Linked DNA regions of Homo sapiens: region 2 is linked to region 1. The links come from fine-mapping of genetic effects on gene expression. A gene starts in region 1. The other region holds a variant in brackets. All regions are shown on one strand. Distances are from middle to middle.

Region 1 (16,285 bases):
ATCATCTTGCTCTGCCCCCTGAAATGAATATTTTCTAATAGATGTAAAACTTTTCAGTATCCTATAGGGCAATAAAATTCTATGTTTGGGATCTTTTCTACAGGGTAGAGATGAATTGATACCTCCTGGAGAACATTCATTAGCATTGCTATCGGTCTTCTAAAATTTAACTTCTACTCTTGCAGAATTGTAATATAGCCTAGCCAATTGAAATATAGCCTAGCCAATCGAAATACAATCAAGGCACTCACCTTTCGAGACTCCAGTGATTCCTAGAGGGTAATTATAGAGAGTAATTCCCTTAGATGGTCCCGCTTACAGGCTTACAGCATATTTCTAGCTCCTTAGATCTTTCTAGCCTGGAACCTTCCAAATCCTCAAGATGTAATATGTAAATATTTGTGAAATGAAGATTTAGCTTGTGGATTCAATAGCCCTGTATTATTAATTTAGGAAACTGGAAAAATTTTTAAAAAGAGGATGTGGTGGGAGTGACAGAGAGTTTGACAAAGAAATAGAGCAGAAATAATAGCTACCGTTTATTGCCTACTGTGTGCCAGGTATTACACATATATAACCTCATTTAATCTTTGCAAGACCTCTATTTTATAGGTGAGGAGACTGAAATTCAGAGAGCTGAAGTATTTAAGGTGAACTTATTTAAGGCTATACAGTGACATGCCTATAGATTTGGTGGCTGGTTTAGTGCTCTCCTCTGTAAGACGATAATCTCTGGGAGGGCAGGGGGCTTTGTTTTCTTCTCTGCCATATCTCTTTGCTCAGTCTGTCCTGCAGAAATGACACAATCAACATCTGTTGAATGCATGAGTAAGTGAATGAATGAGAGAATGAATGGAATAGCAGAGCTAGGACCCATTCCCAGGTCTGTTTGACCTTCACATCCCATGGTTTTCCCACTATATAAAAATTGCTATTCTTTTTCACTTCTGTATATAAGTGGCTGGCTGGCACTATAATTTAACACTTTGATTGCTCTGGCAAAAAGGAAGAGTGCTTGAATTAGCATGAGGTTTTCTGGGTTTAAAATAATTATCTGATTGTAGCTCAGGTAGCAGATAAAATATGAAGCAGAAGAGAATTTTGCAGAGACTGCTTTTAAGAAAAATGTTTCACATGGGGTAAATATGCAAGGGGTCAGTATGAAAAAAAGACAGCATTTGATAAAAAGTTTATTTTCACATGTATGTTCTGGGCCAGAGGTCATTTCAGTAACTAGAGTCCCTAACTCCGACCTATAATAGGTGCAGAGTGAATATTACTGATGGAATGACTGACTAACAGATGCTTAATACGTACTTTCAGATGATGATGGGAATAAGGGCAAATTAATAAGTCTTTAGAGAAAGCTAGTCATAGTAATTATTCCCAGAAAGGTAAAACATTGCTTATCATTGACATATGTTTTGCTGTTCTATAAATTGTAAGTTGTTGGGTGAAACTTTTATGGATTATGATAAAAATTGACAACTATAGAATCAGAAATTATGGAATTCTCCTGGCTGCCCGCTTCAGCAATCCCTCCACAGCACTTCGGTGGATGGAATCTCCCCTTCCTGGAGCAAGTGAGAGAAAGTACCCGGATGCTTTTTGTGCTGCTCTCCTTTTTTCCACATGGTTACTAAAGGTAAGTTACAAAGCCCCATTGGAGTTGGCGCATATTAAAAATGATGTCAGAGGGAAACGCACAGATGAAAGCTGGCTCTAGAGATGAGAACTTTATTTGAAATGATCATTGAAAACCAGATTTTGACTCGTGAAAGATAAAACTACTCTTCACAGCCCCCATCAACGTGTGACTGAATTTTCCAACTGCTCCCCAGCTTTCACATTCCGAATCCAAGCTCTGAGGCTCCATCTTGCCCTTTCCTCCCCTTTGTTCAAGCTGGATTGAAGTTTTCTTCCTCTGCCTTTGAGTTAGTGTGGAATGGGTTTGATGACAAGTTACGAATCATACCTGAAGGTGCTTGAAGTACAAGAAGAATGTTTTCCTGGCTTTTGGTTATTAAACACCAGCAATGCTATTTTGGTATCCAAGTGCAGAGCAAGGAAGGAAAAAAAAAAACCAAAAAGACCAGAGGAACAGGAACTCATGAAGTTAAATATTTACAGGACAACTGTGGCTTGCATGAAGCTATTCAATCCCCCTCTCTCTCTTTCTCCTTCCTCTTCTCCTTTCTTCTCCCTCTCTCCTTGACTATCTGGTACACAAATTTCAGTCTTAAGAGAACAGAGCAGCATGTGATGAGATGACACAGCTCTCTTTCTTTCAGGGTCATATCCTGCCATGTGTGTTGGTTATACAAACACATAATTTTTTTTTTAAAGCATGGTTATTCATGGTAGAAATTATTAGGTTAATTGGAATAATTTGAGCACAAACCTATTTTGTTTTAGTCTTAGTGACTCAGAGAAAAATAACTAAAACCTTTCCTCAGCCGCTAGCCCATGTGGTCACTGAGCACAGCTATTGTGCTGATGAGGAGTGTAAGGCTCAGGAAGGTTGCTGACTTACCAGGGCCCATGTTGGCAGCTGATGGAGCCTGAATGAATCTCCTGGCTCTCAGTCCAGTTCTCTTTCTAGAACATCATGCTATTTCATGATTAGATTTCATCTGGGCAGGAAAAATGAGCAGTAATTTCAGAAAGGGACATCTAAGCTTTTGCATCTAATGACTCTGAGTGTGTGTGTCGGAATAAACATCTCACCCTCTAGCCTTGCATGTAACAAATGACATAGGCATTCAGTTGAGCTAAATTGCTGGATTGTAGAATGAGAGTTCCAAGTGGAATTGAATGGAACAAATCCTTAGGTCTTGTCACTGCCTGCAAAAGGCTGCCCAGACTAGGTCATAATATTGTGTTCTATGTTTATTATTAATTCACTCACTTATTGAACAACCACAATGGTCCAGGTGGAGATGTTGGTATATGGTATGGAAATGGGTGAAAACAGTTGAAGCATTTGGTGCCCTACCGTAAGGCAGATAGCCACCCATTTCAATCCAATGTGGCAGTGGCCTGAAAAGGTTTTATGTTATCTTCTGGTGCATTGGTGATCATGGGCCAGATCTGAGTTCAAATTTAGTGCTTGACTTACTACCTTGGTGACCTCAGGTTACTGAACCTATTTTAGCCTTATCTTTATGATAGAGATAATATGATCTCAAACTGCTGTTGTTGCTAAGGTTACATAAAATAATTCATTTAAAGCACTGGGCCCAGCGCCTCATTCATAGTAAATGCTCGTTAAGTGTGGGTGTTACTCTCACTACTTCTGTTTTTTTTTTAATTTAAAATTTTTGTGAATACAGAGTAGGTGCATATATTTATGGGTTATGTGAGATATTTTGGTACAGGCATGCAATGTGTAATAAGGCATAAGGGTAAATGGGGTATCTGTCCCCAAAATCATTCTTGTTATTGATTTCTAGTTTTATTCCACTGTAGTCAGGGAAGATGCTTGATGCTATTTCAGGTTTTTAAAAAATGTCTTAAGACTTGATTTGACCTAACATATGGTTTATCCTTGAGAATGATCCATGTGTTGCAGAAAAGAATGTCTATTCTGCAGGCATCGGATGAAATGTTCTGTAAATATCTATGAGGCTCATTCTACAGTGCAGATTAAGTCTGATGTTTCTTTGTTGATTTTCTGTCTAGAATATCTGTCCAAAGCTGAAAGTGGGATGTTGAAGTCTCCAGCTGTTATTGTATTGAGGTCTAGCAGTCTCTTTAGCTCTAATAATATTTGCCTTATATGTCTAGATGCTCAAGGGTTTGGTGCATATACATTTACAATTGTTAGATCCTCTTACTGAATTGAGCCTTTTCTCATTATATGATGACCTTTGTCTCTTCTGATAGTTTTTGTTTTGAAGTCTGTTTTGTCTGATATAAATATAGCTACTCCGGCTCTTTTTTTGGTTTCCATTGGCTTGGAATATCTTTTTATGTTCCTTATTTTCAGTCTATTTGTGTCATTATAGGTCACATATGTTTATTGTAGGCAATAGACCAATGGGTCTTATTTTTTAATCCATTCGCCCACTCTATGTCTTTTGATTGCAGAGTTTAGTCCATTTAATTCAATATTATTATTGATAAGTAAGGACTTACTCCTGCTCTTTATTTGCTTTTTGGTTGTTTTGGGGTCTTCTCTTCCTTCTTTCATTTCTCCCTGTCTGCCTTTTAGCAAAGGTAATTTTCTCTGGTGGTATGATTTAATAGCTTGCTTTTTATTTTTGTGTATTCATTGTGTTTCTTTGACTTGAAGTTCTCGTGAGCCTTGCAAATACTATCTTCTTATAACCCACTATTTTATGTTAGTAATTACTTAACACTGATTACATAAACAAAGAAAACTAATAAGAGCTCTACACCTTAACTTCCTCCCCTTGCTTCTAAACTCTTTGTTGTTTCTCCTTATATTTTATTGTGCTGTCTATGTCTTGACAAGTTGTCGTAGTTATTATTTTTGATTGGTTCATCATTTAGTCTTTCTACTTAAGATAAGAGTAGTTTACACACCACAGTTACAGTGTTATAACATTCGGTGTTTTTCTGTGTACTTACGATTACCAGGGAGTTTTATATCTTCAGATGATTTCTTATTGCTTGTTAACATCCTTTTCTTTCAGATTGAATAACTCCTTGTAGCATTTCTTGTAGGACAGGTCTGGTGTTGATGAAATCCCTCTGCTTTTGTTTGTCTGAGAAAGTCTTTATTTCTCCTTCATGTTTGAAGAATATTTTTGCTGTATATATTATTCTAGGGTAAAAGTTTTTTCCCTCCAGCAGCTTAAGTATGTCACGCCACTCTCTCCTGGGCTGTCAGGTTTCCACTGAATAGTCTGCTGCCAGATGTATTGCAGCTCCATTGTTTGTTAATTCTTTCTTTTCTTTTGCTGCTTTTAGGATCCTTTATCCTAGACCTCTGGGAATTTGATTATTGCATGCCTTGGAGTAGTCATCTTTGGGTTTATCTGCTAGGTGTTCTATACAATTCTTGTATTTGGATATTGATACTTTTCTATAGGTTTGAGTGGTTCTCTGATATTATCCCTTTGAATAATCTTTCTACCCCATCTCTTTCTCGACCTTGTCTTTAAGGCCAGTAACTCTTAGATTTGCTTTTTTAGGTAATTTTCTAGATCTTGTAGGCATGCTTCATTATTTTTTATTCTTTTTTCTTTGTCTTCTCTGACTGTATTTTCTAATAGCCTGTCTTTAAAAGTGCACTATTTCTTCTCCTTAATCAATTCTGCTATTGAAAGACTCTGATGCATTCTTCAGTATGTCAGTTGCATTTTTAAACTTGAGAATTTCTGCTTGATTCTTTAAAATTATTTCAATATCTCTATTAAATTTATCTGATAGAATTCTGAATTCTTTTTCTGTGTTATCTTAATTTTCTCTGAGTTTCTTCAAGATATTGATTTTGAATTCTCTGTCTGAAACATCACATATCTCTATTTCTCCAGGGTTGTTCCCTGGGGACTTATTTAGTTTGTTTGGTGAGGTCATGTTTTCCTGGGTGGTCTGGAAGCTTTTGGATATTCATTGGTGTCTGGGCATTGAAGACCACCCCAAGAGCCTGCTTAGTACTCTACCTCCCTGTGGCTGAGCTGGTACCTAAGGGGAAGGAAAACATCCTCTTTACTTTTCCTTCTGCTTTTGTCAAGCAGAAGGAGTCTCTCACATTAGCCACCACAGTTGGGAATATACTGGGTCTCACCTGAAACCAGCAGATCTCAGAGTCACACCCAAGAACCACAGTGTACTACCTGAGTATTGCTTCTGGCTATTGAGAACCCAAGGGCTCTTTAGCCAACAGGTGATGGGTCCTGCCCAGACTGTTTCTTTCCCTTCAAGGCAGCAGTTTCCCTTCTGGCCCAGGATGTGTCTAGAAATGTTATCCACAAGTTAGGACCTGGGATGGGGGTCTGATGACTCAGACTGATGCCCTGTCCTACTGTGGCTAAACTGATATTCAAGATAACAAAGTCCTCTTTACTCTTCCCCCTCTTCTCTTCAAGCAGAAGGAATGGGTCTCTTCGTGCTGTTTTTAATCACTCCAGCCACTAGCATTGGGACTGATGCAGACACTAAGGATCCAAATGATTATTTTTGTTTTGTTTTTTTAACTGCATTGGGATTAGGCAACAGAAGGGTCTAATGTGGCTGAGAGTTTTTGAGAGAGGAGCATTTTTAGGAGGGTAGCTGCATTCCAAGTAGAGAGCTCTGCTGGGGTAAAAGAGGCATGAGTGCTAGAAAAGGGCATGCAGTGATGAAGAGCCACTAACAGCACTACCTGGGGTTGGGGTAGGGGTGTCACAAGCACTCCCTTAGCTCCCCTGTCTGGTGTCTCAGTAAGTCGCATGCCCTCCAAGTCTACTGGCTCTGAGCTCAGCATTTGGGCTTGCTTAGGAGTTGCTGTCCTTGTGGCCTAGGCTGCCTTTAAGGTTATTTGGGGCCCCAGAGCACTTTACTGAAACTCAAGTTTTCACCACTGGTATGGGCTATTTCCTCTGAGGGAAATTGGCTGAGTTCAGCCTAGTTTTGCTTTCTGCTATGACAGAGCAGTACTGAGTTCAATTCAAAGTCTCCCAATCACTGCACTCTCCCTTTCCCAAGCCACAAGGCTGCTGCTGCTGGGGGATGGAGGACTGGCGGCATTGGCAAATCAAAACTGTCTTTCCTGGCTTCTTCAGTGCCTCTTTCAGTAATATGAAATTAAAACCAGGTATTGTGGTTACTCACCTGATTTTTGGTTCTTATAAAGGTGCTTTTTGTGTGTGTAGATAGCAGTTAAATTGTGTTCCTAGCCGGGGTGGGGGGTGGGTGGTCAAACCTTCTATTTGACCATCTTGCTTCACCCCTTTCTACTGATACTATTGTTGTTGATATTATTAGGAATGAAAATGAGCCCTGTGAGTTATAATTGTCTTCATTTTGCAGACCAGGAAACTGAGGCTCAGAGAAATATTAAGCAGCCAAAGTCACAGCGATTAAAAGAGGCGGGACCAAACTTTGACGGAGATCAGGACCCACTCCTTTGAGAAATCACCTCTTTTGCTAGCTCCAGCCTAAAAGTGCTATCTAGGAGAAGGTTTATGGGACCCCAGCAGATGTTCAACCAGAAACTTCTGACCTGCAGGGGCTGCAGAGGGGAAATCTGCCCTGATTAGAAGAGATTTGTTTTCCACCCATATTAGTTTGATCTCACATTGCTATAAAGAACTACCTGAGACTGGGTTTCAGAGGCTGTACCGTAGGCATGGCCAGAGAGGCTTCAGGAAACTTACAATTATGGTGGAAGAAGGGAAAGCAAGCACATCTTCACATGGCAGAAGGAGAGACAGAGCGAGCAAAGGGGAAGTGCCACACACTTTTAAATCATCAGATATCCTGAGAACTCACTCACTATCATGAGAACAGCAAGGGAGAAATCCGCCCTCATAATCCAATCACCTCCCACTAGGTCCCTCTCCCAGTGAATTATAATTCAATATGAGATTTGGATGGGGACACAGAGCCAAACCATCTAACCTTGCCATGTCCTACTGTACTTTTTGGAAGTTTTCTGAACTAACATTTCTTGTCTAGAAATATACACACTCAAGATCAATCTAACTATTAAAAACAAAAAATGCTTATTTTCCAGTACCTGTTTTATGTTAGATTCTGGGGTAAAAAGAAAAAGGTACTGACTTAATGTTCCTGTCTATCATTCATTTGTAGCTTGTGCATCCATCCTTTCATCTGTCTATCCATATCACAAACATGTATTAAACACCTGCTGTATGCTAGACACCATCCTGAAGGTGCATTTCTTCCCTAAGTCTTTTTTTTGCCTGCCGGAGAGTACAGTATTCTCAATTCAAGATAAGAAGTGGTGAATAAGAGTGAAGTGCAAATTGGTGAGGACACTTAGACACCGAGTGATTACTTCTGACAGGTTTCCACCACTCAGCTAAGTAGCAAGGTGAAGACTCCGAGGTTGAGTTGTAACTCACAGAGCGGGAAGACCAATAGGCAGTGAGAAAAGAAGTTGCAGTGGCTTCACGTTATAGCAGATGCCTGTGTGTACACATGGGAGCGAATATGGCTTTATGCTGTTTTTCAACCGCTTCAGCCACTAGCATTGGTACTGCTGCACACTAAGGATCCAAATGATTGTTTTTTTGTTTTTTGTTTTGTTTTGTTTTGTTTTGTTTTGTTTTAAATTGCATTGGGATTAGGCAACAGAAGGGTCTAATGCGGCCGGGATGAGACAGGAGAGTTTTTAGGAGGGTAGCTGCATTCTAAGTAAGGGACTCTGCGGGGGGAAAAGAGGCGCAAGCGTTGCAAGAAGGGAGTGCAGGGGGTTGAGCAGGCACCTCTACAGGAAATGGATGCTGTCCAGGTGCTGGTGGGCGCCCCAGGGCTACGTGGCGAAGCAGCTCAGCCGGTCCAATCAGAGTGCGTCCAGGGCTCGGGTTTCGCGATCTTTAAGTGACTGAGGCAGATCCCCACGCGGCACCTGGCCATGCTCTCAGCTCTCCCGCCGCGGTGAGTATGTTTAAGGAATCCTTTCCATTACGGCGGCCCCATACCTAGGTCCCCGTCCGGGACAGAGGAAGCCGCAACGGGTCCCCCCGGGCACCCGGGCCTTTCTCCTGCCTCCCGCCACGTCCGAGGGTCCGGCCGCAGCGCCGCCTGAGCCCCTCCGCGGCCGGCAGTGGGAGGCGGGCTCTCCGAAAGCCGTCGCGGTGGTCCCAGAAGCCGGGTCATAAATAATTCACGAGCCAGGGTCTGGCGAGCTAAGGGAAGGGCGGCGGCAGCGGTGACTAGGGCGGGAGCAGGAGCGGGAGCCGGGTGCACGGTGAGTAGCTGGGTCCTCATCCCGGAGCGAGAGAGGCATCTGCTGACCAGGCGCGGGGCTGAGCGCACTCCTTCCACTGTACTGGGGGTGTACAGTGAGGAGTGGACGGGTTCGCTCTGCGCCCCCCTTACCCTAGCCATCTGCGCCGCCTCCCTGGCCCCTCAGCAGGTGGTGCGGGCCCGGACAGCGGCTGGGGGCCAGAGGAACTGCGGGGAGAGCGTGGTGGTGCCGGTGCCCGTCCAACCCAAACTTTTTAGTCTGAGTGGTGGCCCGCGACGCCCCGCTTGGGTCTTCTTTCCATCCACTGGGGATGGGGGCGGGGGTGGGGGTAGCCGGCGGCCGTGGTTCCGGAGCGGGAGTCGGAGGTGAGTGTGCGAACTGGACCGGGGCCCCAGAGACTTCGGACTCGCTCTCGGGGAGAACGGTGACCGAGGTGAGACTCGCCAGGGTCTTGGGAACGAGTCTGCGGTAAAGGAAACTCTAGGGATGGCCCCGGGGACGTGAGGCGCTGAGCTTCCCTGGCTGAGTGCGGAAATGGGCCAACACTGTGCAGCCGACCACAGCGGGAGTAGGGATATGGGGGTACAAAGCGAGGCCATCTCCCCGCGTCCGTGGGAGAAAGCATGCACCCCTGGCTTGAAGCACCTTCCCAGCCTCTCGCTCCACGGCCCTTCTGCTTGCATGCGCGGGGACCCGCGGCTATCGCTAGATGGAGAACTGGGGTGCTCAAGGCGCACCCTGCCAGAACACGCCGACCGGACAACAAAGAGGAGCGTGGACAGACCAGGAGCTTCACGGCTGTAGAAAGTCAGAGGCTCGGGATCAGTTTCCCCGAAAGCCCGTGTCTGGAGGGGCAGGGAGTCGGATCGGAGGGAGGAACTAGCTCCAGAACCCCTTCTCTCTGGCAAGATCGCCCCCGATCGGTGCCCAACAGGGGCCGCGGCGGGGAACTGGCGCCGACGCGCTCAGAGCAGCCAAGTTACTCCGGCAACCCCCTCCCCTGCGCGGCTGCGAATTCCTGGAGTCTCTTGGCTTCCCGCGCCCGCCCCGCCGCTCATTCTTTTGTGTCCCGCAGCTCGCGAGAGGCTTCCGCCCAGAAGGGAGCTAGGCCTGGAGGGGGCTTGGCCTGGAGGTGGTTTGGAGGTAAAGGGCGGGGAAGCCGGCGCCCCAGGCTTCATTCTGCAACAGGTTGCTCCTGGAGCCCGCTAAGGCGACTGACCTTTCTGGAGAAAGGTTTGCTGGAGTTCCTGAGGGCGGCAGCTGTTCTTTGTTAAGAAAGCAAGTGCACGATCGTAGTTCTTGAGTGCCCCCCGAGACTCATGCGACACGAACAACCGCTGCGATATGTTGGGTTGAATCATAAGAAATTGTCGGTTTTTTGGATGGAAGATGTGAATATCGTCAACCTCATATGATTCAACTTGTGTGATGTTACTCATTTTTCTTTTCTCACCGTCCTTTCTGTCCCGGTTATCCTAGGAGCCCCGGTGGAGTTGAGCTCAGAGTATTGATGCTAGCAGAAGCAGACAGACCCCAGATAGCCTTCCAGCTGCGTGCCAGGTGCTTTACCTATTAGATCGCTAGCCTGCGAACCCTATGCGAAATCCTCCTTTGACAGAGGAGCAGAAGAAGGGTTGGAGAATTCAAACAACTGTCATCTTGGCAGAGTTAGTAAGGGGGACCAGAGCCCCCTTACTGTTGCTGTTGTCTGTCTATTCAGCAGTGCCCTTTAGTTTATTCTTGTTTTTTTTTTCATGTGTTCCATAATTTTTTTCTAAACTTCCTTCTGATTTCTAAACTTTTCTAAACTTCTTTCTGATTTCTAAACTTCCTTCTGATTTTTATACGAGACAGTTTCTTTGTGTTTTAGTACAATGAGGTGAACAAATGCATCAGAGGACAAGCTGAAAACTTTAAACCAAGTTGGTACTGTTTAAAATATAAAGGAAATAGGTTTTTCAGGGAGCAAAGAGCTATTTCTGAGATTTGTTAAGGGTCAAGATACTTTGTTAAAACAGTGGAAGCTGAGTCGGGGGTAATTTTTATCAGATAAAGGACTTCTTGGATTCTGTAAGTTGCCTGTTCACTCTGATGGTAGTTTCTTTTGCTCTGCAGAAGCTCTTTAGTTTAATTAGATCCCATTTGTCAATTTTGGCTTTTGTTGCCATTGCTTTTGGTGTTTTAGACATGAAGTCCTTGCCCATGCCTATGTCCTGAATGGTATTGCCTAGGTTTTCTTCTAGGGTTTTTATGGTTTTAGGTCTAACATTTAAGTTTTTAATCCATCTTGAATTAATTTTTGTATAAGGTGTAAGGAAGGGATCCAGTTTCAGCTTTCTACATATGGCTAGCCAGGTTTCCCAGCACCGTTTGTTGGGAATTGAACAATGAAAACACTTGGACACAGGAAGGGGAACATCACACACCGGGGCCTGTTGTCAGGTGGCGGGAGTGGGGAGGGATAGCATTAGGACATATACCTAATGTAAATGACGAGTTAATAGGTGCAGCACACCGACATGGCACATGTATACACATGTAACAAACATGCACATTGTGCACATGTACCCTAGAACTTAAAGTATAATAAAAAAATATATATACATATACATATATATATGTATATGTATATATATAAAAGGACTTCTTGAAAGGATGGTCCCTGGGTGGCTTAGGTAAGTGGCAGCAAGGCTGGCTAGCCAGGCTTAGGAATCTAGGACATGCCACAGGACCCCTGATGGGTGGGTGGCTGCGGCTGCCAGAACAGGACCCTGGATGTGGCTACTGGCATTGCTGCCATCATTGCTGGAATGAATTAGATACTGTCCTGCTTCAGAGTGCGCAGGCCCAGGCCCAGAAGAAAGCTTCTGATTGGCCCAGCATGGCTCAGCTCCACCAGGACACAGTTTGGGCGCCTCAGCTGACCTCACAATGCAAGGCAGGGCTGCCTCCCACCCAGCTCACAAACGTGGTCTCAGATGTTGGGTATCCCCCATGCCCCCGCCAAAAGCACTCCAGATGACAAAAATCCACTACAAAGCTCTTCTTTAAAAAGAAAGATTCTGAGAAGTTCCATCAAAAGAAGAAAAGAAGAAATGAAGGTGATTGATCACCATATTTGCTTTTTCATTTTTAATTTTTTTTTTTGAGATGGAGTCTCTGTCACCCAGGCTGGAGTGCAGTGGCATGATCTCAGGTCACTGCAACCTCCGCCTCCCGGGTTCAAGTGATTCTCCTGCCTCAGCCTCCCGAGTAGCTGGGACTACAGGTGTGCACCACCACACCTGGCTAATTTTTTTTGTATTTTTAGTAGAGACAGGGTTTCACCATGTTAGCCAGGATGGTCTCGATCTCCTGACCTCGTGATCCGCCCGCCTCGGCCTCCCAAAATGCTGGGATTACAGGCTTGAGCCACCACGCCCGGGCCATATTTGCTTTTAAACCAGTATTGAAATGCAGTTCTCTGGACTCCAGGCTCAAAATCATGTAAGGTCGCCCAGGCTGGAGTGCAGTGGTATGATTATGGCTCACTACAGGCTCAGCTTCCTGGACTCAAGTAATCCTCCTGCTTCAGACTTCCGAGTAGCTGGGACTACAGTTGTGCACCACTACGTTTGCTAATTTAAATTTTTTTTTTTTTTTTTTTTTTTTTTGTAGAGACAGGGCCTCTCTATGTTGCCCAGGCTGGTAGCAATTCTTCATTGAGTACCAACTGTGTTCCAGGCTCTGGGGATACAGAAATAAGCCAGGGACCTGCACAGCAGCTGGGGTAGATCAATTCAAAGCAATATGAAAAGGGCATTTGGGGAGCTTTCACCTTACATGTGTTATTTTCCAATGTGTTTGGGAAGCCTGAAGTGTCCTTGGAAAGTGACATGAATTGACTAGGCGGGTACTCCAGGATCAGAGTACTCCAGGAACAGAACTGTTCTCAAACTTTGTTTGAAGGATCAGTCCCCAGGAAAGCTTGTTAAAAATGCAGATTAATGGGTTTCATCCCAGAAATTAGGTCCATTAATAGTCTGCATTTCAACTAAACACCCCATTTTATCCCGAGACAGATGCTACTCTCAGTGGCTCTCGGACCTAGTGGGGTTTAGCTGGTAAATACTCAGAGCTTCTGTTTTTGGCACAACCTATTAAACCCGAGATAAAAAACTCTTCCTCTTTGACTTGACTTTAATCAGTTTCTAGTATTTCATAGTTAGTGAGATATTAATACTTTCTTAAAATGTACTTTAAAACTTCAGAGGGACCTACATTTTGGAGCAAGATGTAAAGAAATCTGGAAGTGCAACTGCAGTTGCTGTCTATCTCAAGTCATTGTCTCCCATCTTTGCTGCGGTGAGCAGTTATGTTTCACTTCACTGGGAATTTCCCTTCCCCTGCTTTGTCACTGAGGGAGTTGGAGAGCCTGTTTGTTCATAGTTCTTCCCTTGGCAGTTTCTCTCTGTCCTGGGCTGAGGTTTGGTGGAATTACCAGAAAGTGGGCCTTCTCAGCATCTGAGCCTTTAATCCTTCCAGCTGCTGTGCTGGAGGCTTAGCTCTCTGCCTGTCCTTTAGCAAAAAAAAAAACCAAGATAAAGTGTACATGTGGTGTGTTGTGCTTGCAGTAGATGTTTGAAGGGAGCCCTTTGGAAACACCAGGGTCAAGGTGTCTATTGTGGATGTGACGGTGGGCGTAACCTGAAGCGTGGGCCTGAGGTTAGTACTGGCAGCCACTTGGGATCTGAGCAGCCCATGATTTGACAAAGGAAGAATTTGGGGCCCTTGTATTGGTAGCTTTGTGCAGGAGTAATTGGAGTGGGACAGGACTTAGAAGATGAGGCAATGGAGGGATTAGATATGAATTAACATCTTTGTTCAAATAGCTCAAGAAATCCCATCTGTTGTCCAAAGCTTTCTTTGACTTGGAATATTGGTAGTGGGTCCTCTGGCTTCTTGCAAAGTATGTCACCTTCTTCATCATCCCCCTTCCCTTTCTTACAGTATGTGTTTCAGGAGCACCCTGTACTTATCTTGAAAGTTAGTAAGTATGTATCTAGCTCACAAAGTGACAGCAGCTTGCTCTTGCTCCAGGACACTTAATACAGAGAGGAAGAGTGGTACACTTGGGATCCTTCCAGGTTCTGTGCTGATTTGCCTAGTCTCATGAAACCGCACAAGGAAATAACATATTTTGGCTTCTACGCCAGCACTTGCCCTGTAGCTCTGGAGCAGGCTGTGTTTGGTTTCCACCCACCTACCTGGATTAGGCTGAAGGCCCTGCTCTAAAGCTTTGCAGCCTCCTGTCTGGGGCACTTCTTGCTGCAGGCAGGTTACATGCATTGGTGACTCTGCTGCTATTTCTTTCCCTGCCAGGGATGGTGCCATGAGTGAAACAAGCTGCTCAGCAGGCACTTACTAAACACCGACTACGTGCCATGCCCAGTGTTAAGGTCTGGGGATTGAAAGAAGAGTAGGACAGAGTCCATCTTGGAGGCACTTTCTGTCCCATTCCCTTCCCAGATGCTGGAGCCACAGCTGCTTTTAGGATTCTTGTGTCTTTCTCCGTCTCCCAAGGGGTAGGTAAGAGTCTCCCTCTGCCCTGGCTTTCATCTCTGAGACCCCTAGTTGTAGAGGTGGTGACTTAGGGTGAAGATTTCCATCAGGATTACTTGGTAAGCTTATTAGAAAGACAGGTTCCAGTGTTGCACATGTGTCCAGCCTCAAACGGTGTGGTCCCTAGACTTGAGGCCATGCCCTTCTACTTTGGATTCGGGGTGAGGTGGAGAGGGGGATGTTTGAAATGAGATTAGTGAGTAAATAAGTAGAATATAAGGCAGAGTAAGATATATCTCCAGCGGCAAAGAGAACAACACACACTTGGAGAAGAAATAAGCATATAAGCATGTACTGGATTGCTGGGGCCCCAGTGGCTCGTACTAGAGCCTGAGAGGGAGGGCACTGAAGGGACAGTGTCTTGATGTCATAGTTAGATCTTGGACTTTGAAGGCAAACTAGTGGGTTTGACTCTTGGCCGCATGGTTAATTGAAGGGGTGGGTTGCCCCTCCACACCTGTGGGTGTTTCTCGTTAGGTGGAACGAGAGACTTGGAAAAGAAAAAGACACAGAGACAAAGTATAGAGAAAGAAATAAGGGGGCCCAGGGGACCAGCGTTCAGCGTACGGAGGATCCATCCTGGCCTCTGAGTTCCCTTAGTATTTATTGATCATTCTTGGGTGTTTCTCAGAGAGGGGGATGTGGCAGGGTCACAGGATAATAGTGGAGAGAAGGTCAGCAGATAAACACGTGAACAAAGGTTTCTGCATCATAGACAAGGTAAAGAATTAAGTGCTGTGCTTTAGATATGCATACCCATAAACATCTCAATGCCTTACAGAGCAGCATTGTTGCCCGCATGTCCCACCTCCAGCCCTAAGGCGGTTTTCCCCTATCTCAGTAGATGGAACATACAATCGGGTTTTATACCGAGACATTCCATTGCCCAGGGACGGGCAGGAGACAGATGCCTTCCTCTTGTCTCAACTGCAAGAGGCATGCCTTCCTCTTATACTAATGCTCCTCAGCACAGACCCTTTACGGGTGTCGGGCTGGGGGACAGTCAGGTCTTTCCCTTCCCACGAGGCCATATTTCAGACTATCACATGGGGAGAAACCTTGGACAATACCTGGCTTTCCTAGGCAGAGGTCCCTGCGGTCTTCCGGCCTTCCGCAATGTTTGTGTCCCTGGGTAGTTGAGATTAGGGAGTGGTGATGACTCTTAACGAGCATGCTGCCTTCAAGCATCTGTTTAACAAAGCACATCTTGCACAGCCCTTAATCCATTTAACCGTGAGTGGACACAGCACATGTTTCAGAGAGCACGGGGTTGGGGGTAAGGTTATAGATTAACAGCATCTCAAGCTGAAGAATTTCTCTTAGTACAGAACAAAATGGAGTCTCCTATGTCTACTTCTTTCTACACAGACACAGTAACAATCTGATCTCTCTTTCTTTTCCCCACATTAGGGAGGGCACTGAAGGGACAGTGTCTTGATGTCATAGTTAGATCTTGGACTTTGAAGGCAAACTAGTGGGTTTGACTCTTGGCCACATGGTTAATCACCTGTGACCTTGGGCAAGTCACCAGAATCCTCTCTGTGTCAGTTTCCTCATCTGCAAAATGGAATAATGCCTTAAACAAGGAGGACCTTGTTTCTATCTATGAAGCATGGAGAACAGTGCCTGGAAGATAGTAAGTGCTCAATAAATGTTAGTTTCCAAGATCTCAAGCTTTCTCTACAATATTTAGTATTTCCCGAACCCATAAAGGGTCTGTGTTCTGAGTCTGGCCCTCCTGAGAAGGGACCTTCTGTGAGTCATGGCTTTGATGCCAGCACCTGCCCTGTGGCTCTGGAG
Region 2 (16,285 bases), 49 kb after region 1:
AACAAACAAAACAAACAAAAAGCAGGAAAAGCCAAGACTTGAGTCTGTTGAGTCTGTCTCTCACTGGCTGAAGCTGGATTATCTGTTGACTCCTAAACCAAGTTATAGGGGTTGGGTGGATATGTTACTTGGCTCAGACCAGAAGGTCTCACTCACACACTGTGGGTCTCAGATCCGCTTTAACTCTTAAAAATTATTCAGGGCCCCAGAGAGATTTTGTTTATCAATATTTATCATATTTGAAGATAAAATGGAGAACACCTTAACATATATTTGTCAATTCATTTAAAAAGAACGATAATAAACCCTTTCCATAAATAACTTAATTTTGTTAAAAATAACTATAGTTTCCAAAAGCAAAAATCATGAGAAGAGTGGCATTGGTTTTTGCATTTTTGCAAATCTCTTGAACATCTGGCTTAGTGCAAGTCAGCTGGATTTTCATATCTGTATCTGGGTTGCTCCCGTTGAGGTACTGGGTGTTAGCTCCGTTGATGTATAGGGTGAACGTCTGCTCTCACTGAGATAGGTAGTTGTAAAAGAGAGCAGTACTTTAGTAGTCTTTTCAGATAATTGTGGATATTTTTCTTTAATACCACACTAAAACTGTGCAAGTGCTAGTTTTTAAAGGTTATTTGCAATGTGGAATCTGGAACCATGTGAATTAATTTTTTATAGTTTGATCTATTAACAGCCACTGGTCTGTCTTCCACTGTATTTATTTATTAAAAAAATTTAAATTTGTATAAATTTATGGGGTACAAGTGTAATTTTGTGATGTGGATACAGCACATAGTCGTGAAGTCAGGGCTTCTAGAGTATCCATCACCTGAATAATGTACACCGTACCCATTAAGTAATTTTTAATCATTTACCCTCCTCCCACCTCCTTGTCTTCCACTTTGAATGGATCTTTTTCCACGCAGGCTTTTGTGACATGATGCATGAATCTTTTGGAAAATATTCGTTCACTGAGTTTTGCACATCTCCCAAATGTGGACATATTTCATTTTATAGTATCAAAAATTCTTTAATATCCTTACTGATCACGTTAGAAAGGCATAAGTACTGGAATGCTGTCAAGCTCATGGTGGTGGATACGCACTTTGCAAAATTCTGATTTTTGCTTGAAAGCTCTAGTTTTATCATTGGCAACAAATCCTGTCAGTGGCTTCTTAAACTTGCAAGCTCCACTTCTTTCATTTCAGAGAAAATGCTGGCCAGGCACGGTGGCTCACGCCTGTAACCCCAGTGCTTTGGGAGGCCAAGGTGAGAGGATCGTTTGAAGCCGGGGGTTTAAGACTAGCCTGGGCAACATTGTGAGACACCATCTCTACAAAAAAGCAAATTAAAAAGTTATCTGTGCATGGTGGCGTGCACTTGTAGTCCTAGCTATGCAGGAGGCTGAGGGGAGAGGGGAGGATAACTTGAGTCCAGGAATTTGAGCCTTCAGTGAACCACGATTAAGGGCTGAGATTGGGTATATCTAAGTCTGAATAGTCACAATTTGTCTCTCAGCCTTTCATATATATATATATATATATATTTATTTATTTATTTATTTATTTATTTATTTATTTATTTGAGGCAGGGTCTCGATCTGTCACCCGAGCTGGAGTGCAGTGGCATAACTGTGGCTTAGTTGAACTCCTGGGCTCAAATGATCCTCCTACTTCAGCCTCCCACTACAGGTGCATGCCCCCACACTTGACTAATGTGGGGTCTCACTATGTTACCCAGTTGCCCAGGCTGGTCTCAAACTCCTGGGCTCAGCAATCCTCTGTCCTTGGCCTCCCACAGTGCTAGGATGACAGGTGTGAGCCACTGTGCCTGGCCATCAACTTTTCTTCCAAGTAAAGATGGTGTTCCATGAAAACTGTGGCTAGTTGAGCTCACAACTTAAAACACTTGCACAAATGCTTTTTGCACATTATACTTTGATGTATATGAAAGAGCTTTATGTGTAGTTACCATTTTTTTTTACACAGGATAATAAAAAGAGCTGTACTCATAGGTTGAAATTTAATAAAAATAATTTTTAATGCTTTATCAAGAGCCTTCTTAAGTGTAACTGACTATTGAACATGAGTGCCTGATGGCAAAGAATATAATGAGTATCAGCTGCCATCTTGATTTGTGCCAAATCACTTGCATTCTTATCTACCACCGCCTTTGCACCCTAGTGCAAATGTCAACACAACAAAAAAAGCAATTAACATCTTGTGTTTTGACCTCATGGACACCCTGAACATGTCTTGGGGATTCCCACAGCCCATGCTTGGAGACCCGCTGGTTCAGACCCGTGAGGATCTACCTTTGAGGTGCTGGGCTCACGGCTTCCCCAGTCCACGTGGCCTGAGAGGATGGAAGAAGCAGTTCCCCAGAAGAAATCCAAAGTTTTTCATTTTGTTTTTGTTTGTTTGCTTTTGTTTTGTAAGGGAAAAAAAAAAGTGAATGGATATTGAATGGCCAAAATAACAGTCTTCCACACTGCACTTACCATGGATACTGTTCTGTGATCTGCATGCTCTAAATTCCTTCATATAATGATAGCAGGTATATACCATGTGCCCACTGTGTGCCAGGCCCGGTGCTGTTTTATTTATAAATGTTTTCTCACTTCACCCTAAGTGGTCCTTTGAGAGTAGGGACGTCTTATTTTGCACATGAGCATGTTCGTAGCAGTTATTCACCTAAGATTAGACACACAGTTAAGTGGCGGAGCTTGGATTCCCTTCTAACTCGTTGCTAGATCAAGATCCCAAATTGCAACATATTATGCTGTGCAGCTAAGTATATTTTAATAAACAGATGATTTCTCAGTTTTTAAATCAACAGTAGACTCTTTCATTCAGTGAAATTTTAAACAATGAAATGTTAAAGCCTGATCTGTAAAACAGACCAAAGTAATGCTGACTGGTTGAAGGGGGAAGTAGCCTGTGTTGTCGGAAGGGGATTAGACAGCCTCAGTGTCCCTCTGGTCCTTGGGCAGCCCCCGAGGTACTGTGAAGAAACTATTGGGGTTCCCTGGGTACATATCAGTTTGAAAATCTCTGTTCCTGCAGCATAATCTTTAAACATCAGCCCATATCTCTGAGTTGTAGAGGAGAAAAGTTGTTTTGCAGAAAGCCTTGTGGGAAAGTGGCTTGCTTTGTTTTCCTATATGTTAATCTGAACTTTTTTGCATCAAAAAAGGAGTTGATGTAGTGTTTCGTTTGCCCCCCCATTAGTACATTTCAGGCGTGATGGATATAGTGATAGCACTGCAGAAGCTCCTTCCTGGGGTGAGAGAGAGTGTACAGGTGGCGGGAAGGCACCCGCACAGGAGAAGGAAGTCCTGAGCCTTGGTCTGGCCTCCTCACGAATCACTATGTCACCCTCTCTGTCCATGTCTCAGTTGTCTCATATCATTCTTAGATGGCTGCTCAGGGTTAAGAGGTGGCTCTTAGTCTTTTTTGGTCCCAGGCCTATGTGAGAATTTGCAAATACTCTAAATGAGTATTTATGGAAAAGTTCCAGTTTGCATTGCATAGGTTTTTATGCACTGCTTGGAGACAGGAAGAGAAGGATTTCCCATGTTAAGAACTCGAGTTGGGTTAATTTTTTTTTTTTTTTTGACAGTCTGGAGTGCAGTGGCGCGATTTCGGCTCACTGCAACCTCCACCTCCCGGGTTCAAGTGATCCTCCCATCTCAGCCTCCCAAGTAGCTGGGATTACAGGCATGCGCCACCACGCCTGGCTAATTTTTGTATTTTTAGTAGAGACGGAGTTTCACCATGTTGAGCAGGCTGGTCTTGAACTCCTGGCCTCGGGTGATCCACCTGCCTCTGTGTCCCAAAGTGCTGGGATTACGGGTGTGAGCCACGGCATCCTGCCGGGTTGAGTTAATTTTAAGATTCCTTTCATCCATTCCTTTGTAAAATATTAATATCAGGCAAATGTGGAATTATTGAACAATAAATTTCATTTGTGTTTCCAGACAATTAAGAATTAGCAATTTCAGCAAAATTTTTATAAATGATTATTAATAAGCTGTATGCGGTTTGCTGGTAAATATTAAGGTGTATTATGATAAATTACTAACTTAAAAATGACAACTCTCTAATTCTGTCACTGACAAAATAGTAAATCAGAAGTATTTGTCTTCTATTCTTGGCTTCTGGCTAGAGGTCATTAATTATTTACCTACATTAAGAAATAAGAATAAAATTATAAGAATAATAGAAATATAGGTATAATAATTTTTAAGCATATAAAGATCTTTTTCTAAATATGCATTTTATAATTTTACTGAAAAAATAATATTGCTATTTTGTGGCTTTTTTTCCAGATACTTTGAGAAAATTCTTACAGAAGGCATATGAATCCAAAATTGATTATGACAAGGTAATTTTTCATTGGTGTATTTATTATTAAAAATACGAAGTATGAGAAAAATTTTGGCTGACTTGAAAGTAAATCTTTAAATAACCAGTTATTCAATCTGCAATTTTAGTAATCTTTTTTGACTAAGAACTTTCATGGAATATTGAACCACCTTACAAATCCCATTTGAACCATAGCAGAAAGTTCAAAAGCGGCATTTGAAGAAAACCTTTCAAGTTGTATGTTACTTAAAAATTAAAAACTAAGGCCGGGTGTGGTGGCTCACGCCTGTAATCCCAGCACTTTGGTAGGCTGAGGCGGGCAGATCACCAGGTCAGGAGTCTGAGACCAGCCTGGCCAATATGGTGAAACTCCATCCCTACTAAAAATACAAAAATTAGCCGGGCGTGGTGGCACTCGCCTGTAGTCCCAAGTATTCGGGAGGCTGAGGCAGGAGAATCGCTTGAACCCAGGAGGCAGAGGTTGCAGTGAGCCGAGATGGTGCCATTGTACTCCAGCCTGGGTGACAGAGTGAGACTCCATCTCAAAATAAATAAACAAATAAATAAATAAAAACTAAAATTTCTTCAAAAAGAAATATTACGCTACTTTTCTTTTAGCTGAGGGATGAGAACTCCCTCATTAAGTAGAATTGTTTGAAAATTCCTAGAGATGGTGACTGTGTACTCTGTTATAAAACATCGTTTGTTAAAAAGTAGCTTTGCATTTGTATAAGGTTTATGAAGCTCCTGCTGTGTGAGGACATGGCTAGAAATGAAGGAAGGTGGAGATAAGGATGATAGCCTTTGGTCTCAAGAGGCTAGAAGACAGATAGCAGGGACCTTATCTAGTTAATGTAACAAGGATCATACAAGGGCAGAGCCGGTGGGATGGGTGGGCGCTCTTCTCACATTCCAGGCTTCAGAACATGTGAGCAAAGAGGTCAAGGTATGAAAGAAGCAGGCCCCTGGCCAGAGGGAGAGAAAAAAAGGTAAGTTGGGGCCTGATCCTGGGAGGGCCTTGAACGCCTCTCTTGAGTGAATCCATAGTATTTTCAGAAAGTATCAAGGCTCCTTGCATTTTTCTGCTTATTACCCAAGTTGCTGCCAATGCACTCCTCTGCGACTGCCTACCTAAACAGGAGAATGGTCTTTCGATTTTGGTGTGTTATGACTGTAGGTTGCCCATGAAGCAAACAGACAAAAGTGTGTAGCACTGAATGTAAGGTAATAAAAATTAGTTAAATGTGTTGGCCAGGTTCTCAGTCCTTCTCGGTAAGTAAAGCACTTTGTTCCTTCCTTTCCTGGTTTGAAGGCGGTTATCGGGCTACCAGTAAGCAGATGTATAGGTGGACGTTTTTTACTGGCCTGCACAACAAATCTGAATGCTAGTGTTTCCGGCATGGGAGAAGGCAGTTCCCTTTTGCCCAGTGAATCGTTACCTCAGATACGGTAGTTACAAATGGCCTCATCATATTCTTAACTTGCAAGAAAATTATACTCAAGAGAAAAGTAAATGCAGAAGAGGAAAGCCTTATCTAGAGGCTGTTTACATTCAGCAAGGGAAGACTGTGTGGAAGATGAACTGAGCTGTTCCCAGGGCTCACAGCCTTCCCCAGCACCGTGGAAAGCATTTTCATTCCTCAGTGCCACAGGCTTCATTTATATCTCCCAATGTGATTGTCACGTCGGCCTGTATCTCTGGGGGGAAGAAAATGACAGTTGCTTTTATATTTATATTCAAAATTAGCATAACATGCTTAGCCAGCCCGAATGCCAACCAAGGAATGAGAGTAGGGGCAGTGCTTCAGTGGGATCCGGGACTTGGAGAACGAGGTCCTGAGACCCTTAGGTGGCCTTGAGGAACCTGTGAGTCTGAGCTGGAGCTGGGCTGCCACCGTCCCTGGCAGGGTCTTTGTGCTTGACTTGGTATTAGATTTGGCACTCCCATAACCTTGGTTTATACCCCTGGCTCCTGCTCTCTTTCCTTGCCTTTGCAAATGAATAAAAACTCTGGGTGGGGGTGCAGTGGAGAGAAGATGCAGAACTGAGCCCACATGAATGAGCTGATTCCTACTCTAGATGTGGAACTGGACCATGCTTTCTACCATTATCCAAAGAAAGAGGTTAATTAAACAAAGGCACCAAAGGATCCAGGCCACATCTAGAGGAGGGCTTTCTGACTAGATTTAGTCTGATAAAGGCTGAGTGTGTTGGGTTGGTTCCCCCTGAAGCAGACCCTACACCAATGACTCCAGGGCAAGTCGTTTATTTGGGAGGCTCAGGGAACACAGATTCCTGGTCTTACCCATATCTTCTGACTCATGTGCTGTAGCAGAGGAGCCCAGGAGTCAATGTTTTTCTTTAACACACACTGTGAGGTGCTTCTTTGTGTCTGGTGAGCTTGGGAGCTTGTGCCCTGGTTGGTAACAAGCCTGCGTGCCCCTTCCCCAAGAAAGGGAGACCGGGATCATTTAAAATGCCCTGTGTGACCCCAGAGGCAGGTATATCTGAACTGCCCCCCAGTCCCAGTATTTTGGATGCCTCATTTAAAAGTGATTCCCATCACAAATGGTGTTCCCTCAGAGCTGTGAAGATCTGCCAGCTGAGGCAATAGTTTCTACACTTTTAGATTTCCTGGACCAGAATATTTCAAAAAAGTGATCTAGAAAATGACATAGAGCCACCTAATTTTATTTTGCCACGAAAGGACATTTAAAATCAAACATTGAGATGTTTGGAATAAAAATGGTGGGAATCCGTTGATCGCTTTAAGCATGGGAATAACACCATCAGATTTTTATTTTAGAAAAGGGCACTTGGGAAGATGCTGCCGTTGGTTCTGGAGTTCTCAGATCTGATTCTCTATTTTATGAAGATCACATGGTTAGTGTGTTAAGCATTTGTAACTTCCCCTCTAATTCTCCTTTGCGTAACCGATTAGCATACGGATTAAGAACCTTTTGGGAAATCCAAATGTAAATGCAAATGTAAATTTCAGAACTCAGAGCAACTTAAAACACTGTTTCTTGAATTCACACTCAAGTTTTATATTCCTTTCTCATGTTTATCCTTCTATCACCCAATTTCCTCCTTGTGGGATATGAATGTTCTTGGTTATGGTTGATCACTCATAACTTTTTCTGTCTGTTTTCTTGATGCATGCTGCCTCTGCCAAAATTCCTCACCTGCGTTGACTTCTACAGCCAGAAACTGTAATCTTAGGTCTAAAGGTAAAGTCCTTGTCTGCTATTTCAAGTTGCTCTTGGAAAGCCTTTCTGTTCTTCACTGTCATCCTCACTGTGAAGATTTTTAAATGATCCGTTTCATTTCTGTTTTTACCATCACTTTTAACCTTCTCTTTGAAGAAAGATATCTCTGTAATATTTACATGTTGATCTTCAACACAATCAACAAAGCACTGGAAGATCTTGGTGTATCAAAAAACAGTTTAAGTAGTGACAGGCCTTCGTCTAGTCGGCCTAGAAGTGAACTCTTGAAATGCC[G/C]TATCTTGTTCCTGATACTGCCTGATATTTAGTCAGTAACATTAGAAAGGCTGTGTTATCAAATGTACAATTTGTATTTAAAGCTAAAATTAGTGCATTTAAAACATTTCAATATATCTTCTCTCCTGGGTTTTGGTTCAGTGTCTCCTGGAATTCAGATAGAATTTACATTTCTTTAAAATAGTAAACAATTTAGAATATTTGCTGAGAAATGATGGAAAAATACGTAAGTAAGAGTTTGGAATGTCTGGGCTGGTTTCTTAACTGACAAGTGGTATTGGTCCTCGAGGAAGGGTTAAGTCCCCTAATAATGCCTCTTCGTGGACATGGGATGGGGGTTAGCTTAAGCGTGAGCACATACTTGATGAACCCAGCAAGATTCAGCCACTCTTTTTTTTAAGCAATTTAATCTTAATATGGAAGTAGATAATATTCAAGTGCCAGATGCACCAGATTTACTAGTCTTGAGCATTTGCTCATAGAGTTAACTACCATTTATTGAATATCTACTGTGTGCTGGGCACTTGGCTAGTTGTTTTCACATTCAGTCATTTAGTTATTTGTCCCTCACAATATGTTTATGAAGTTAATGCTAATGTGACACCATCCACTTTAGGGACCTGGAAGCCCCCTGCTGGGATGTAAAGCAGGTCTCTCCTCCAAGACATCACATTTGCTCCCAGGAACAAGACTCGTGTTTTATTTTCCTTTGCTCAGCTTGGCTTCAGAATTCGCAGCTGTCTAGATTGTCCATTTAGTTGCAAACTGCCAACTTGCAATTTTCTGCCATTCTTTAGAAATATAAGCAGCTACATGCATGAATTGGAATGACATCAAGTTTCATCATCTAGTTGCATTAATTTTCGTTTATCCCGGAATAAAGTCAGCAGTGATTATGAAAATATGTTTAGGTCACATGATTGTATCTAGAAATTGTGCTGTTCCTAGGAACTCAGGAACCGTCTGAGACACGGACTGCCAAGGTCGGTCCTTCACTGTGGATCTGGCTCCTGGGCATGGCATGAGAGGCACCTTTAGTAAGTGTCTACTCAGTGCTTGGTCCTTTGTCACATTATTTCTAATCATGCGTTATCTCTAATTTTCACAATGACTTGACAAGGTACGTATTATTATTTCCAGTGTATCAGAGGAGGAACCTTGTGACTGGCCTGTGTTTAACGTGCCTGACTTAGAGTCTGAGCCTTTTTTCTAAATTAAGATACATTCCAGATTCTTGAGTAATTGTTTGCCAGCCAATCCAAAGTGCTTTGAATCTTTAACTTCTATTTTTGCAGTGTGCAAAGCGCCTTATATGTAGATTGTTATGCAAGTACTCCTGCCAAGATTTATTGATCCATTTAAAAACAAACAAAATACCTTTGGGGTTAAAATTAAACCATTTGCAGCTCAAACTAGCATTTAGACATCTTCCTAGGGGTTGAAAGACATCTTCCAGTAACCACTTGGCCATGTATTTAATTACTCAATTCTCTGCTTCCTCTGTTTCAAAAAGGAGTTTCAAAATGGAAAAAAATACATACATATATATATATATATATGTACACATTCAGATTCAACTAATGATGGCAGATAGGTTAAAAAAATGAAACATGGCCAGGTGCGGTGGCTTACACCTGTAATCCCAGCACTTTGGGAGGCTGAGGCAGGTAGATTGCTTGAGGCCAGGAGTTCAAGACCAGCCTGGACAACATGGTGAAACCCTGTCTCTACTAAAAATACAGTACTCGGGAGGCTGAGGCCCAAGAATCGCTTGAACCCAGGAGGCAGAGGTTGCAGTGAGCCGAAATCGCGCCACTGCGCTCCAGCCTGGGCAACAGAGCGAGACCCTGTCTCAAAAAAAAAAAAAAAAAAAAAGAACTTTGTACACCATGGAATGTTCTACTTATTATTTTGTGCTACAATATGTGCTGTTTCTTTTGTTTGAATTGCAGATTGTCTACTATGAAGCAGGGATTATTCTATGCTGTGTCCTGGGGCTGCTGTTTATTATTCTGATGCCTCTGGTGGGGTATTTCTTTTGTATGTGTCGTTGCTGTAACAAATGTGGTGGAGAAATGCACCAGCGACAGAAGGAAAATGGGCCCTTCCTGAGGAAATGCTTTGCAATCTCCCTGTTGGTGATTTGTATAATAATAAGGCAAGTACAATATTGGACAACAACTGATTGTGTTTTAGGCTGATGAAGAGTGTCTCACATTTTTATGGTTAAACCATGAGTTTAAAACTAAACAAAATAGCAACAATGAAAAAAAAACCCACCAAACAGAAAAGAGAGAGCACAAGCGCTTGTCTAGAGTGATTCGAAAGGATCTCATTATCATCAGACATTAGCGTTGTAATGAAGCTGCCCCAGCTGAGCTGATGAGCCAGCCCTTTGGTATTTTTTTCCTCTTGAAGGTATCCTGAGAAATCTTGGACTGCAGAAAGGACTTACCTCCCAGCACAGCAGACTCCTCTTAATTAGCTATTTGCAGGCAGGCAGCATGCAGAAAAGAGAGATGGATCTGCAAGTTGATTTGCTAGTTGAGTCCAAAGGAATCTTGATGGACTGATGCAGTCCCTGAATTTGGAAATTTGAAAATATTGTAGAATGCAATTGACTTTCTAATAATAAACTCATTTTTCTTTTATGTGCTGTTAATCCGCTACCCTCCCTTAAGTCTGGAACACACTTCACGATTTAGGGTATTTCTGCTGCAGTGTCTGCTGCTTTCAAAAGTTTTCCAGTTGACTGGCAGATCAGAAATACATTGCTTTTAAGATGACGTTTTTTCGAGTCCAAATTAGATTGCTCATCTGAAGATGAGTGCGCCACAGCAGTGTTCCCTTGTTATGTTGCTTGGTTATTGTTCCACATTTCCTCATTCATTCCGCCACTGTTTCATGCAGCAGCAGAAATCAATGTGCCTATGACATGAAGGCACAGCAAGGGTTGGCCAACAGCATTCTCTTTGTTGTTTCTCCAAACACCACACGTGCTCAGTAGCCGTAAGATTTTTTTCAAGTTTTACTAAGGAAGTGATATTCAGGAATTTTAACAGAAAACAGTAAGTCCTGTGAGTTGGAGTTCTAGCTGCAAACCCAAGAAGGAAAGCCTTTAAGTGTGGCCACCAGCAGGGGTCTGATAAGATGTGTATGGCTTAGGGTGACCACTCATTGGAATGCAGTGTACCCATTGAAGAGGACTGGGCAGCTCTGGATTTGTTGATACCAGTCACCATGACAGATGAAGTGAAAAAGCAGGTTGCAGACCATGTGTAGAACATGGTAACTATGTTAAAAAAAAAAAAGATCAGGAAGGAGACACAAGCACTGGGTCATATTTTTATAGAGCAGATGGGATGTGAAAGGGTTGACAAGAAACTGGCAACAGTGGTTGCCTCTGGAAAGGAAATTGAGGGTTGTGGAGGGGAAGGAAGGAAACTCATTTCTTGCTGTAGCTGGGCTTTTTGTCTCTTTTGATTATGTACCAGGCTCGGGTATTACCTATTGAATTAACTTAACTGAAACTTGAACAGTGACAAAAAAAATCTTCACAACAGACAAAGGCCAATGCATTACCACTTACTCCAGGGCAGTGACTATTTAAGCAAAGACATACTTTTGCTCATAATAGTGGAATAATCGACCTTAACTATATATGTGTGTAAACAAGATCCAAGTGAATGTGTTAGCTGACTTCATGCATTGTTGGTTAGCCTGAGAGTTACTTGTTTTGTCTCCATGACATTGGGGTGTGGGCATCTCTGCCTGTCAATCTCTCTCTCCCTCTCTCTCTCTCTTTTCTTCCCTTTTCTGTCTCTCCTTGCCTCTCTGTATTTTTCTGTCACTGTCTGTCTCTTTCTCTGTGTCTCCAAAAATCATTTGATCCTTGCTATTTTTTTCACATTTGATTTTGAGAGGCAGTTTGGGATCAGGTCAGTAGTGGTCATTCCAAATGTCCCTGTCTCTCTCTGCTTTGTATTTGATATACTCTAAGGAATGCACAGACTCCTAGTTATAGGGGTAGTTACCTCTTTTTCAGCTACCAGAAGAATCTCGGTTACAGCCCTGAAACCTGTCAAACCCACCAGGGATCCCTGGTGTGTTTCCTGTAAGCCTGAAACTTACACGCCACATTTGTCTAGACACTTGCACAGCCATGTTTACCCGCTCCATACACCCTGGACCTCAAAGATGAGACTCGGATGTGAAAGCATCATCTGAAAATATTGCCCTTAGGGCTTCTAGTTAGAATGATTACTTATTTAACAAGTTAATAATTTTCACTTGATGTCAATACATATAGTATAATTTCAGGAAAATTCTTTATTGAATGTAGTTATTTATTTACCTGAATAAGTGTTTACATGTGTAATAATCGGTTTCCAATATATTGGGTTTCTTTGTTTTTTTGAGACAGAATCTCGCTGTGTCACCCAGGTTGGAGTGCAGTGGCGCTATCACAGCTCACTCCAACCTCCGCCTCCCGGGTTCAAGTCATTCTTGTGCCTCAGCCTTCCTAGTAGCTGGGATTACAAGCATGCGCCACCAGGCCCGGCAGATTTTTGTATTTTTAGTAGAGACGGGGTTTCACCATGTTGGCCAGGCTGGTCTCAAACTCCTGGCCTCAAATGATCTGCCCTCCTCGACCTCCCAAAGTGCTAGGATTACAGGTGTGAGCCACCGTGCCTAGCCACTACAATGGGTTTCTTTTTCAAAATTGAACTTTTATTTGCATTACATATAGTTATGTGTTATGCATGTTATAGTTCACTCTCAGCTGATTGAGTTATTTACATTATGTTGAAAATGCCAAAATATATCAACAATAAAGCTACAAAGTAAAAAATAAACTTGGCTTCCATTTATATATAAAATGAAAGCTACCGTTTTGTTAATTCTTGAGAACTCAGACCTATCAAATCAATATATGTTTTTTCTAAGTATATTTTAATTTAGAAAATTCTTTTTAAAAATGCATGCTGTGATTCTATACCCTCCTACACATTCAGTTAAAACAATTTTTTTCCCCACCCAAGTAAAACATTAATGTGAAAATTGTAATTTTAGATTTCAATATAATTAAACCAAAATTGATCAACTGAGATTGTGACAAAACTAAAACTAATTTGATTTCATATAGCACATTGAATTTATGTATAAATTATAAATAGGCTTAAATAAGAGTAGTGTGTGAATTTTTTTTTCTCACTTTAAATTCTGATGAGAATTTAAGCTTCTTTGCCTTGAACTTTTTGATTTACGGTAGCTATTTTAATGGCTTCCTTTTGAAACCCCCACTGGTTTGCAAATACCTTAAACATCATGAGTTGCATAATACCTACATATTGTTTGCAAGTAATCCAAGCTAGGCAGGAGGATTAAAGACCTGGGGAAAGTTAAGATTTCTCTATTATGAGTAGTTAGACAGGAGAAGAAAGAATGTCAACAAAATCAGAAGATTAGATAAAAATAAGAAGGACAAGAATGTCAACAAAATTGGAAGGCAGAAAGGGAAAGAAAGGAAGTGGAGGGAAAGATAGGAGAGTGGACTCTCTCTTGTTTAATGCAGGGCCTCTAGCTGACATTGACTTCAGCGGAGATGGGACACTATTGAGAAATAATCTTTGCATGTGATTTTTAAAAAATTCTTTCAGAAACCCAGAGCAGTCCACCTGCCTTTTATTGGACTCAATTTCATTTTGTGGCTCAAAATATTACAATTAAATGCAGTTGGTTTTCAAGTTAGTTTTGAGCATCCTTTTTTATTTTAAAAAATGTAAATCTTTTCTTTAGGGGGTGAAGGGAAGACATAGGTGTTAAGGAGAAAGATGCCCTAGCAGATGTGCAATCTACGTGGGCATGTTCTTTCTCTGAGGGTTCCCAGAGGCAGCTGTGGAATGTGAGAATTCCGTAGACACTGACATATGTTTATGCAGTCTGTTTGACCATCAGCACAAGATCGAATTTCCACCCCTCACTGTAGACTGTTAAGCAGATGTGTCTTACTCCAGAAAAAGCCAACTTTCTTCTCCTTTCTTTCTTTTTGCTTGTCACCGCTGCATTTCTCATAAAGGTTATGGAAGGAAAAAAAAAAACCATGACTTGACTTCCTTTGTATGTTTCTAAGTTTCTGAGTATGATAAGCCAGTCTTGCTAATAATTCCCATGGTGAATTGAATTCCAGTCATTTTCAGGAAGCTGGCTATTTTCAAAGTTCATTTTATACTAGGACGTGATTGCCAATTCCTGAATGGGAGGCTACAAGGTTGTGGAAAAAAGATTGAGCTAGATGTAGCAGTCCTGAAAATCATGAAACTTTCTTCATGTGAATGAGGTCTGGTTACTTACAGTTTAAATGTAATTTTTCTGTTTTTTAATAAGAGAGCTGTTATAGACTGAAAGCATTTGTTTGGCTTTCTTTGGCTAATTTTATTAAATCAGTAGAAATTGGTAAGAGCAATACAGTTACAAGTTTTAAAGTAAAGGTTTAAAAGTAAGGTTTAGCCTTACTCTGTAAAAAGCTTGTAAGTGTATATGTGAGAAAATTGTTTTTTCCATAATAAAATATGGAAGATGTAAGGCCATAAAAATAAAAATTCCTATCTTCTGCTAAAAATTCTAAGAGATTTTGTTGTACTGCTTAAAAGCATATGTTTTAGATTGTTTAAAGGCATTTATGTCAAATGCCAGAGAACTGATATTCACTGAAATATGATTTCCTTTTTGTGTTAGGTAAATGTCTCTTGGTATCATTGTATTCTAATAATTGACTGGAGGTTGTTCAAATAAAAATATTTATTCACATACCTTTTTTTTGCTAAAAAATACACTGAACAACAGGGAGTGTCTAAATCAATACCTCAAAGCATAATTTCTTTGTTCTTTATTTGTGTTTGAATAGAAGGTTTAAATTTGAGATTGCACATGGAGACCATCAGTTGGTCTGCATAGTATTTAAATTTTTTTTGTTAGTTGCTAATATTTAAAAATTGGGATATTTCACATAAGAATCCAGATTCCCAGATTTTTGTGGATAATGGGAAGATACGGTAATATTTATCTGCCATCATGGTGGTGCTTTTGAGACCTGCAGATTTAGCTGCTCCTCCAGCCCATTTTTGATCTCCCAGCTCCCATGACCCCCTGCTACCCAATTTTTCTTTAATGCTTTCTGCCTGCTTACACAGGCATTAGAATTTAAATACAAAATTTACTTTGTGCATTAGTTTGAAAATCAGCTTTGAAAATCACTAACTTCTACTCTATAATTATACTTAGTAGAGATTTTTTTTCTTTTTCTCTTTAATAATGGGGTCTTGCTATATTGCCCATGCTGGACTTGGAACTCCTGGGCTCAAGTGATTATCCCATGTCGGTGTCCCAAGTAGCTAGGATTACAGGCGTGTGCCACCACACCCAGCTTAGTACAGTTTTTTTAAAAAATTATCAATGCTTTAATTTTAATTAGATCTATTATCGATTAGTAGAAATGTAGGTCTAAAATATGTAGCATTGAAATCGAGTGTTGTAGTGAAATGTATTGCAATTCATTTCACTGACTGATGATCTTGTGAGTAAGGACATTTATTCAATAAAGGCACAAAGACAGTTTCTGACTCACACTTAGACATACGGCCAGTCTTCTAAATAGCCCAAATGAAACCAAAGCTTGACCCCTAAACTCACCTTCCTGGAGCACCCGGTGTAGACAAGACTGCATTATACAAAGTTAACAAAGAAGTAGTTTCCACCTCTTTTTAGGAAAATTAAACATAGATAAGAATAAAGACACATTAGAGTCTGAAGTGAGACATATCCCATCAGAATTAAAGGGAGCCTCTGGGAGTTCAAGGCAAGGAGGTTCTTCTCCCTCTTGGGGATGGGTGGAGGGGTCAGTGAGGGTCAAGTGAAAGTGGACTTGGACTGGTGCTTTTCTCCCAAGTTCACTTTGACTTCTTGTATCTGGAATCTGACGAGTGAATAAAATAATCTGGGCATGCTGGGAAGAGAGAGCAAGAGTCCCCATTGTGAACATCAGGTATGTTCAGGTGGTGAGCCTGACTTGTCATGGTCTAGCATGTTTTGAATTTGGCATGGCAGCAAGCTCCAGGTGCATTGCTGACTCAACTTTTGTGTGTGTGTGTGTGTGTGTGTGTGTTTCTTCTTCACAAAACTCCAAAATCATTATTTTGAGTCATTTGACCTCTTTGGCATGAGTGCCTGATTTCATAACTCTTATTGCTGTAGTGCATTGACTCCCAAAATACCAATGCAAATTTAGGACAAATTATAAGGCGGTCATTCCAAATGGGACAGAATATTGTTAATATTTATTTTATAAGATTACCATCAGAATTAACCCAAACTTAAAAATCTTAGAGAACGTGTACATCCAGTACTACTCTCCTT

Direction of the effects. Positions count from the first base shown, and alleles are read on the strand shown. Sizes are in standard deviations (SD) of each study's normalised expression.
As copies of G replace C in region 2, the expression in aorta of the gene that starts at base 8,526 in region 1 goes up (large effect, 1.1 SD a copy in GTEx).

The links.
Region 2: its variant is fine-mapped to the expression of PROM1 in aorta (GTEx, PIP 0.94).

Annotation. Positions count from the first base shown.
Region 1 is chr4:16,076,264-16,092,548 of GRCh38, reverse strand. PROM1 (prominin 1) reads left to right here and starts at 8,526. Exons shown (of 28, transcript NM_006017.3): 1 at 8,526-8,571. RefSeq lists enhancers at 13,251-13,340, 14,686-15,403, 15,404-16,121.
Region 2 is chr4:16,027,047-16,043,331 of GRCh38, reverse strand. It overlaps PROM1 (prominin 1), which reads left to right. Exons shown (of 28, transcript NM_006017.3): 3 at 4,331-4,386; 4 at 7,571-7,597; 5 at 9,823-10,028. Among named protein-coding and RNA genes, the nearest start is that of PROM1, 49 kb to the left of the region's middle. RefSeq lists an enhancer at 1-339. The variant G/C (reference allele first, on the strand shown) is at 7,871.